2 separate regions of the Homo sapiens genome follow, and region 1 is linked to region 2. The links come from fine-mapping of genetic effects on gene expression. A gene starts in region 2. The other region holds a variant in brackets. All regions are shown on one strand. Distances are from middle to middle.

Evidence for each region. PIP is the estimated chance that this variant, and not a neighbour inherited with it, causes the effect.
Region 1: its variant is fine-mapped to the expression of LINC00304 in whole blood (TOPMed, PIP above 0.99).

The regions. Positions count from the first base shown.
Region 1 is chr16:89,029,515-89,034,896 of GRCh38, forward strand. No RefSeq gene overlaps it. Among named protein-coding and RNA genes, the nearest start is that of CBFA2T3, 55 kb to the left of the region's middle. RefSeq lists enhancers at 2,586-2,645, 2,656-2,715, 4,925-5,382. The variant T/C (reference allele first, on the strand shown) is at 2,410.
Region 2 is chr16:89,156,948-89,162,282 of GRCh38, forward strand. It overlaps LINC00304 (long intergenic non-protein coding RNA 304), which reads left to right and starts at 2,273. Exons shown (of 4, transcript NR_024347.2): 1 at 2,273-2,443; 2 at 2,761-2,934; 3 at 3,269-4,612. RefSeq lists enhancers at 2,169-2,338, 2,722-3,221.

The sequences.
Region 1 (5,382 bases), 130 kb before region 2:
AGTAAAGCAGACTTTATATTAATATATGAGTAAAGGGGACTTTATATTAATATATGAGTAAAGGGGACTTTATATTAATACAGGAGTAAAGCAGACTTTATATTAATATATGAGTAAAGGGGACTTTATATTAATATATGAGTAAAGGGGACTTAATACAGGAGTAAAGCAGACTTTATATTAATACATGAGTAAAGGGGACTTTATATTAATATATGAGTAAAGGGGACTTTATATTAATACAGGAGTAAAGCAGACTTTATATTAATATATGAGTAAAGGGGACTTTATATTAATATATGAGTAAAGGGGACTTTATATTAATACATGAGTAAAGCAGACTTTATATTAATATATGAGTAAAGGGAACTTTATATTAATATATGAGTAAAGGGGACTTTATATTAATATATGAGTAAAGGGGACTTTATATTAATATATGAGTAAAGGGGACTTTATATTAATATATGAGTAAAGGGGACTTTATCTTAATACAGGAGTAAAGGGGACTTTATATTAATTCATGAGTAAAGCGGACTTTATATTAATACATGAGTAAAGCAGACTTTATATTAATATATGAGTAAAGCAGACTTTATATTAATATATGAGTAAAGGGGACTTTATATTAATACAGGAGTAAAGCAGACTTTATATTAATATATGAGTAAAGGGGACTTTATATTAATATATGAGTAAAGGGGACTTTATATTAATACAGGAGTAAAGCAGACTTTATATTAATATATGAGTAAAGGGGACTTTATATTAATATATGAGTAAAGGGGACTTTATATTAATACAGGAGTAAAGCAGACTTTATATTAATACATGAGTAAAGGGGACTTTATATTAATATATGAGTAAAGGGGACTTTATATTAATACAGGAGTAAAGCAGACTTTATATTAATATATGAGTAAAGGGGACTTTATATTAATATATGAGTAAAGGGGACTTTATATTAATATATGAGTAAAGGGGACTTAATACAGGAGTAAAGGGGACTTTATATTAATTCATGAGTAAAGCAGACTTTATATTAATACATGAGTAAAGCAGACTTTATATTAATATATGAGTAAAACAGACTTTATATTAATATATGAGTAAAGGGGACTTTATCTTAATACAGGAGTAAAGGGGACTTTATATTAATATATGAGTAAAGGGGACTTTATCAATACAGGAGTAAAGGGGACTTTATATTAATTCATGAGTAAAGCAGACTTTATATTAATACATGAGTAAAGCAGACTTTATATTAATATATGAGTAAAGCAGACTTTATATTAATACGTGGGTAAAGGGGACTTTCTATTTACTTCATGTTTGCCACCTCCAGGGCTCTTCACGTCTTTGTGTGGATCTGAAATTCCATGTGGCATCATTTCCCTTCAGCCTGAAGGGCTTCCTTCACATTTATTTATGTACAGTTCTTCTAGTGATTCATTTTCTCAGATTTTGTTTATCTGAATGCTTTATCTCACCTTAATTTTTGAAGGACTTTTTTTTCCTGCAGAGTGTAGGATTTTGAGCTCACAGTTCTAACACTCTAAAGATACTGTTCCATTGTCCTCTGGCTTGCATTGTTTCTGATTAGAAGTCAAAGATTTTGTTTGTTTTGAGAGGGAGTCTCACTCTGTCACCCAGGCTGGAGTGCAGTGGCACGATTTCAGTTCATTGCAACCTCTGCCTCCCTGGTTGAGGCGATTCTCGTGCCTGAGCCTCCTGGGAAGCTGGGATTACAGGTATGTGCCACGATGCCTGGCTAATTTTTGTATTTTTAGTAGAGATGGGGTTTCAGCCTATTGGCCAGGTTGGTCTCGAACTCCTGACCTCAGGTGATCACCCGTGTTAGCCTCCCACAGGGCCGGGATTATAGGCATGACCTGCCATGCCTAGGCTCTTTGGATTGTTTTTATGTATCCATCTTCAAGTTTGCTAACCATTTCTTCTGTAGTCCAATCCTCTGTTGGACTCATCTAGTGAATTTTAAATTTTAGATATTATAATATTTAGTTCTAGATTTTTTAATATCATTTCCCCTTCCATAGTTTCCATTCTTTTGAGAATCTCTATCTCCTCACTCATGTCTTTCTCTTCTTTTAAATCTTTCTCTTTGAATTCCAACATCTGTGTCATCTCTGGCTCTGTTCTATCAACTTCTCTTCTGGTTAAATTTGCCTGCTTCTTTGCATATATAATAATTTTTATTGTATGCTGAACATCATGGAGGCTATATTGAGAGTTTGGATGATGTTGTCATCTTTAAAGATGGGAAGTTTTGTTCTAGGAGATGGCTGTCAGCTTGAGTTTAGACTTTGCGAGGGCAGGTTCTCAAGCAATCCTTAGCCTGTGGCTAGGATAGTCCTCCTGAGACCTGCCTTACTGGGGTTGTCAGCGAGG[T/C]CTTTCCACTCAAGCTGTTTGGGTCACACAGTGTCTTCCAGCACTGTTTTACCTCCAAACTCTTTCCTCCATGCAAAACGCTTTGTCTTGGCCAGGCCTTGTGAAGTCCTTCCTATACGGCTCAAGGGAACTCCTGTACAGATTCCTGGGCTCCTTTTCTTTGCACAGCTTCCTCCTTTCTGTTCGCCGCAAGTTGCGGACACCTCGGCAGCCCCATACTCCCCGCTCTGCTTCTCTGCCTGTTGAGACATCTGTGCTGGGTTGAGTCCCCACTTCCTTGTCCTGTGGTTTGGAAAGTACCTCCCAGCAGAAAGCTTGGGTGCACGTGGAAATATCTGTTGTGCAGTGCCTGAAAACAGTTCATTTACATTTCATCCAGTTAAACAATTGTTTATAGAAGGAGGATGAGCCTGACGGACACCCGTGATTTTTATCATGGCTGGGAGTGGACGCCATGCCCTGCCTTGGCAGCATCCTGCCTTCCCACTTGTAGTGCCGTTCCCACCACACCCTCAGTCCCATCAGAGCCCCTCGTTCCTCCTGGCCCCATCCACACGCTACATCTCAGTAATGCGTCCCTGATCTGCACTCTGAGCCTCACCCGTCCTCCCCTGATCTGCACTCTGAGCCTCACCCGTCCTCCCCTGATCTCCACTCTGAGCCTCACCCGTCCTCACCTGATCTCCGCTCTGAGCCTCACCCGTCCTCACCTGATCTCCGCTCTGAGCCTCACCCGTCCTCACAGGCGTCTTCACTGCTTGTGTGCCCTCTGAAAATTCTCTGTGGCATCTGGCACAACGTGGCTTCAACAAAGGTGGATTTATCTGAATTGGGGCTGAAGCAGTGGGAACTGCTCTCACGAACCACTCCTGGTCTTTCAGTTGGGCCAGAGCCGGCATTTAAAGGCGTGGAGGGGAGTCTGGACTGTCAGAAATTCAACCTCTTTATTTTCTAGATGAGGAAATGGATCCAGAAAAGTTTCATAATGTATTTCAATTATGTCATTTATTTATTTATGATTTTTTAAAATTTTGAGAGGGAGTTTCACTCTTTTTGCCCAGCCTGGAGTGCAGTCGTGTGATCTCAGCTTACCGCAACCTGCACATCCCAGGTTCAAGCGATTCTCCTGCCTCAGCCTCCTGAGTAGCTGGGATTGCAGGCATGTGCCACCATACCGGGCTAATTTTGTATTTTTAGTAGAGATGGGGTTTCTCCATGTTGGTCAGACTGGTCTCGAACTCCCAACCTCAGGTGATCCACCCACCTCGGCCTCCCAAAGTGTTGGGAGTACAAGCGTGAGTCACTGCGCCCGGCCTATTTATTTATTTATTTATTTAAAGTATCAAACAGCAGCCATGAGTTAGGCTCTGGGGATACAGAGAAATTGCTTTGCCCTCAAAAAGCTCTGAGATGGTAGAGTGGGGGAAATAGAGGAATAAACGAGTGGCATCCACTCAGGACCCTGCGTGGTGTGAGCTTGCCGGGGAAAGCCTGGTACAGGCAGGGAAGACCTGGAGGAAGGCAGGGAGGCTGAGCTGTGAGGTCATCGGGAGAGGGCCAGGAAGGGGCACGTCCATGCCACCGGGAGAGCATGTGGAAGGGCCCCAGGGGCCCTGCGAGGACAGTTTTGAGGGTGCACGTGGTGCCCTGAGGATTTGGGGCAAGGGCTGGCATGGGAGGGTGAACTCGATGGGATGGCAGTGAGGAGCAGCAGGAGGTTCCAGGCCAGGGCAGGGTGATCCAGTGTGTTGTTTCTGTCCAGCCACCGTGGCTGGACAGGCCAGAGGAGAGGGGGTGTGGGAGGCAGTGGGCAGCTGGGAGCTCTTCCAGAGAGGGGGTCATGGGATGAAGCAGAGGAGGTGGGCTCTAGGGGGACTCAGGAGGTAGAAGGGGAAGCAGACCCCCTCCCCACAGCCAATTTGCTGTTCCAAAGCTGAGACCAAGGCCCGAGGGCACCCAGGGAGCGTGTGTGCTGCCATTCACCCTGCATCTGTGCTGGTGCTCCGGTCGTGGTGCCGGGATTTGCTCTCACTGGTGAGGGAAGAGACTTGGGTTCATGGAGGGGCAGAAGGTGCCATGCCCTGGCTCACACAGCACACGGGCAGGGCTGGGGCCAGAGCCCAGCACTCGGACTGCAGGCAAGTGCATGGCCTCCCTGGGCGTCCACCCGCACTGCAGGGCTGAGCTGAGCAAATGTTAGTGGGTGGCCAGAGCTGCACGTGCACACACACACTCAAGCATGGGTTCCCCCCCACAAGTTCACACACACACTCACGTGTGGATTCACCTGCACTCACATGCGTGGGTTCACCCGCACGCATTCACACACACATGTGTGGGTTCACCTACACTCACACTCATGCTTGGGTTCACCCACACGCACTCACACACACACGCGTGGGTTCACCCGCACTCACACACTCCCACACGTGGGTTCACTCGTATGTATTCACACGCACACTCACGTGTGGGTTCACCTGCACACACTCACATGCACACTCACACGTGGGTTCACCCACACGCGCACACACACAGAGCACACTCTGGCGCATGCATGGACACAGTCAGGCCCGTGCTCTCTGAGGTCCGATGGAGGGCATCGTTCTGGGAGCTTCCCTGACCCCTGGGTGTCCCGCGCCTGCCCTCTTCAGTGGTGGTGGAGGCCGGGCAGGCCGCGGTACCAGTGGGAGGAGAGGCTGGCTATGGAGTTGGTGCCTGGCATTCTTTCCTAGCACACTTGGGGCACCTTCCCTGGCAAGGTCAGGCAGACAGGCCAGGCTAGGCCTCCTGTCAGGGACCCAGCAGGATGCCACGTAGCAGAGGCACCAGCACATCCCAAACTGGCCGTGCCCACGGCCTCGTGGTGAGAGCAGGGCCACCAGCCAGGAACCAGCATGCTGGCAGGAGGTGGGAAGAAACTTTGTTTTTGGCTGCGGCCTCCTCTGTCCTGGAGAAAGTGGCCACAGGGCTTGT
Region 2 (5,335 bases):
GGGGCTGCCTTCCTGCCAGGTGTCCAGGCCCAACACACAAGACCTGAGCCTGCTCTGCCTCAGTTTCCCTACTCTGTGAACTGCGGCTGCTGCTCTCTCGGGGCCCTTCTAGCCCTGGCCAAGGGGTGGGGGCTTTGTTCCCTCGGGCGTCCTGTCCCTGGGGACTGGCCACACACACACCACACACTGCCCTCCCACCTGGACTCTGTCCCAGCGGCACCAGGGTCAGGAGCAGGAGCCTCAGGACCCACGCAGCACCAGGCACAGCACGGAGTGAGGCAGTGGGCGGTGTGGCAAGCGCTGTGTGCACCACTAACCTGGAGGAGCCACGGCTCCCGGACCCTCGTGTCAAAGCTGCCGGCCTCCTTTGCTGGGAGCCTGAGAGGAGGTCCTGGTGCAGAACAGCAGCTTGTTGCCAGCCACAGTGAGAAGGTGGTGAGTGTGCCAGCCACTGAGTTAACCATCAGTAACAGGAGGCGTGTGCAGACAGGTGTGGACCACAGGTATGTATGTCACATGCCTGCATACGTCACATGTATGTGTATCTCACACGCCTGCATACACCACAGGTATGTATGTCACACGCCTGCATATGTCACATGTATGTGTCTCACGCCTGCATAAGTCACATGCATGTGTGTCTCACGCCTGCATACACCACAGGTATGTATGTCTCACGCCTGCATGTCACATGTATGTATCTCACACGCCTGCATGTCACATGTATGTGTATCTCACATGCCTGCATATGTCACATGTATGTGTATCTCACACGCCTGCATACACCACAGGTATGTATGTCTCACGCCTGCATATGTCACATGTATGTGTGTCTCACACGCCTGCATAAGTCACATGCATGTGTGTCTCACACGCCTGCATACACCACAGGTATGTAAGTCACACGCCTGCATGTCACATGTGTCTCACACGCCTACATGTGTCACATGTATGTGTATCTCACACGCCTGCATACACCACAGGGATGTATGTCTCACGCCTGCATATGTCACATGTATGTGTATCTCACATGCCTGCATGTCACATGTATGTGTCTCACACGCCTGCATACACCACAGGTATGCATGTCTCACGCCTGCATATGTCACATGTATGTGTATCTCACACGCCTGCATGTCACACGTATATGTCACACGCCTGCATATGTCACATGTATGTGTATCACACACCTGCATACACCACAGGTATGTATGTCACGCCTGCATATGTCACATGTATGTGTGTCTCACACGCCTGCATATGTCACATGTATGTGTCTCACACGCCTGCATAAGTCACATGTATGTGTCTCACACCTGCATACACCACAGGTATGTATGTCTCACGCCTGCATATGTCACATGTATGTGTATCTCACACGCCTGCATATGTCACATGTATGTGTATCTCACACGCCTGCATACACCACAGGTATGTATGTCTCACGCCTGCATATGTCACATGTATGTGTATCTCACACGCCTGCATACACCACAGGTATGTATGTCTCACACACGCCTGCATATATCACATGTATATGTGTCACACATGCCTGCATACACCACATGTATGTCACACACATCTGCATATATCACTTGTATGTGTCTCACACACCTGCATACACATATATGCCTCACACGCCTGCATCTATCATGTGTGTGTCTCACACACCTGCATATATCACATGTATGTGTCTCACAGCTGCATACACCACAGGTATGTGTCTCACACACGCCTGCATATATCACATGTATGTGTATCTCACACGCCTGCATATGTCACATGTATGTGTATCTCACACGCCTGCGTATATCACATGTATGTGTGTGTCACACACACACCTGCATACATACAGGCACATGGACACCTGTGTGCACACCAGTCCCTCCCTTCCCCGTCACCATCAGGTTCAGCCGGGCCTGTGGTCACTGCTTCCCCGAGGCAGCTGCAATGGGGCCCCGGCTCCCCCTACATGGTGCGTCTGATCAGGTTGGGACTCGCTCAGGTAGCTCTCATCACAAGGTCCTTGTGCACTGTTGCGGCTGCTCTTGGTGGCCCTTCTAGAGCCTTCCTGAGCCAGAGCAGACTCCTGCTCCCCCCAGACCCCCTGGGAGTCGATTCTGTCCCCTTCTTCCTGGCCGCAGGTCGGTGCAGCCGCTTTCCTGCCTGGAAGAGTAAAGTGGACCCTGTGTGAAAACATTGACGACGTGGCAAATGAGCAGCAAATTGATCAATACGAATGATCACGCCCCATGTGCATCTCCTCAGCAGCCACAAGAGAGACGAGGTCACTGGAGGATAAACATCCGTGACTGCACCTCATGATCCATCACGCACGACGGCCGCAGCATCTCCTGCCAGCTGCCGGCACAGACAAGAGCACGGGATGGACGACCGCGGTAGCAACGTGGGGCTCATCTGCCTCTCTCTGAGCAGGAAGCCCGTAGGTCCCCACAGGCGGGTGCACGGAAGGGGTGGGTCCTGGGCCCAACAGGCACCCCCTGAGCACCAGCCCGTCTGAGGGTGGGCGGAGGGCGCTGCCGCAGGTCCCCACATACCCAGCGCACGCTCACCCCACACTGGAGGCACCTGCCGGGTTCTGACACCCCTCGAGGTGCCTTCCCAGGGTTCTCACACCCACTGAAGGCAGCGCGCTCAGCCTGCTTTGCACATGAGCCGCTGAGGCAGGCGAGTTGAGGGCGAGGGTGTGAATCACGAGCTTGGGGCCAAAGCCCAAGGTCGTCCCCTCTGGCCGGCAAGCTCAGGCTCACACGGGGAGCCACCAGGCTGGACTGGGTGCAGCTTACGGACGTGGCGCGTGCTGTGGGCGTCGGGCCGCGGCTCCTCCATGCAGTACTTACACTGCTGTCTGCAGATCGCACCCAATCAGGAGGGAATGGTCCAGGCAGGTGGGCAAGGCCACGGTTTGGCCAGGTAAGGCTGGGAGGGCCCAGGATGATTGTGCGTTGAGCCAGGCAGATCTGGAGAGGCGGAGGGATGGGGACGGAGCGCCATGCAGAGGCCGCTCGGTCCTCAGGAGCTGAGCATCACCCTGGGAGTCTCAAGGAGGGTGTCCCCTGGCCTTAGCGGGCAGCCAGGGCCAGCATGTGGTCTGTGGCAGCCGGTCTCAGAGGTGGCCTGGTTCGCAGTCTTGCTGGATGGAGATCCCCAGCTCCTAGGGCAAGGGCAGGTGGGGTGGGGCCGCCTCGGTCAGCTGATAGGAACTGAACTGAGAAGGCTGTGAGCCGCTGAGTCGCCCTAACTGCAGGGTGGTCCTGCGGGCAGTACTGAGCCCGCCCTGCTGGGCACCCCACAGCCCCTGTGGCTCTCCAGCTGCCACTGAGGCCGGACGCCTCATGAGGAGGCTCCCATCTGTGGGTGGCAGAATGACGGCCCCGAAGACCCCCCGCTTCCTCACCCGAAGACCCCCCGCTTCCTCACCCGAAGACCCCCCGCTTCCTCACCCGAAGACCCCCCGCTTCCTCACCCAAAGACCCCCCGCTTCCTTGCCCCGAAGACCCCGCTTCCTCACCCTGGGACCTGTGAGTTCACACAGCAGCGGGGACCTGCGACTGTGGACGGCACATCAGCTCCCTCAACAGGGAGGCTGCCCTGGGTGACCCGCGAGGGCACAGGGTACCTCCGTCCTGCTGAGTGGAAGAGGGAGGCCATGGCGGAGGCGGGCGTGAGGGGGACTGGCCTGCCACTACTGGCTTCGTGAGGGGCCCCCAGCCAAGGAGAGGCCTCCCGAAGCCGGAAGAGGCGGAAAATGGATTCTCCCAGGAGCCTCCAGAAGGAACCTTGGTGTTGGTGGAATGGGATGTGAGAGGACACGCGGGTGATGTGTCTTGGGTCACACCAGTTCCCGGTCCCCGCACCAGCCCGCCCTGGGCGGGAAGCCTAAGAGGAATGGAGGGGCCATCGTGGGGCTCTCCCGGAAACTGGCCCCGGGTGCCTCGGTCCCTGCGTCAGTGCGGGGTTTCGGTGGCCGCCCTGCTGGCTCCGGGCACTCCCTCCGTCTTCCTGCCACGCGGCTGGTCCTTCCTGGGCTGGGCTGAGTCACCCTCCATGCCCACCCGTCATACCCGGCAAGAGCTGGGGGCGTGAAGCCAGGCCCAGGTGGGCTGTGGCGGCATCCAGGTGGAAGGACGTGGAGGACTCGGAGGCGGAGGGGTCTCCAGGGCAGGGCAGGGCCAGTTGCCTGGGGCCATCTGCTGTGTCCAGGAGCCCGGCGCTGCCACTGGCCTTGCCCCAAGGCCCAGCTCTGCCCTTCATCCCTTCAGCACCTCCCCGTACCTTCCTTCCATGGGTCTTAAGCTGTGGCAAGTCCTTAAGCTGGGACGGCCAGCGCCAGCCCTGCCCCCAACAGGTCACTCAGCGGCTCGGAGCCCACGTCCTCCTCGGTGACACAGGAAAATGGTGCAGTTGTGCAAGGGCATGAGAGGGTCCCGTGGAAGGCACATTCCAGAAGGTTCTGTCCCATGGAAGGCACGTTCCGGAAGGTTCCATCCCATGGAAGCCACGTTCCAGAAGTTTCCATGCTGTGGAAGGCATGTTCCGGAAGTTTCCGTCCCGTGGAAGGCACGTTCTGGAAGGTTCTGTCCGGTGGAAGGCACGTTCCAGAAGGTTCCTAGCCCAGCTCCAAACACAGGCTGCAGGCTCAGCAGAGGGGTCTTCTTCTTGCCCACAGTCCCTGACCAGTGGGCTCCCCAGGGCCCTGTCGGAGCTGGAATGGGTGGAGCTTGGTGCCTGCAGGCCAGTCAGCACATCTTCAGAATCCATGGTGCTCCCAGGCTGGCCCAGGGCCTTAGGAGCACAGGGTGGGCACAGGACCCCAGGCTCTGCCAGCCAGGCCCTGACCGTCCTGGGCCAGCCGCTGCCCCCGTTCTGCATCCGCCCCTGTGCGATGCGACCTCTCTGGTGGCGCCCATCCCAGCTTCATTCCCCTGTGGGCCCTGCTTCAGTCTGCCTGGGACACGTGGGCGCGTGTGTGAGTTCGCATCAGCGAGCATGCGTGCAGCGTGTCACATATACATACACGTGGGCGCACCTGCACACCCATGTGTCACAGAGGAGGGAGACGGACTCACACGTGGTGGCCCTAGCCACACCCTCAGTCCTCTCTAAAGCACCAGCCGGTGCCCACCCAGGCAGCCCCTCATCATAGGCTCACAGGGCACGCCCCCCATTGCCAGTCTGACCAGACACTCACAACCATTCAGTTACTCTAGCCACGGAGTCATCAGTCTCCTTCATTACCACCTGCCCACCCTCCTCTGCCGCACAGCAAAGCCCATTAAGACAGCAGCAATGCGAGCAGCACGTGGTGCCTTTC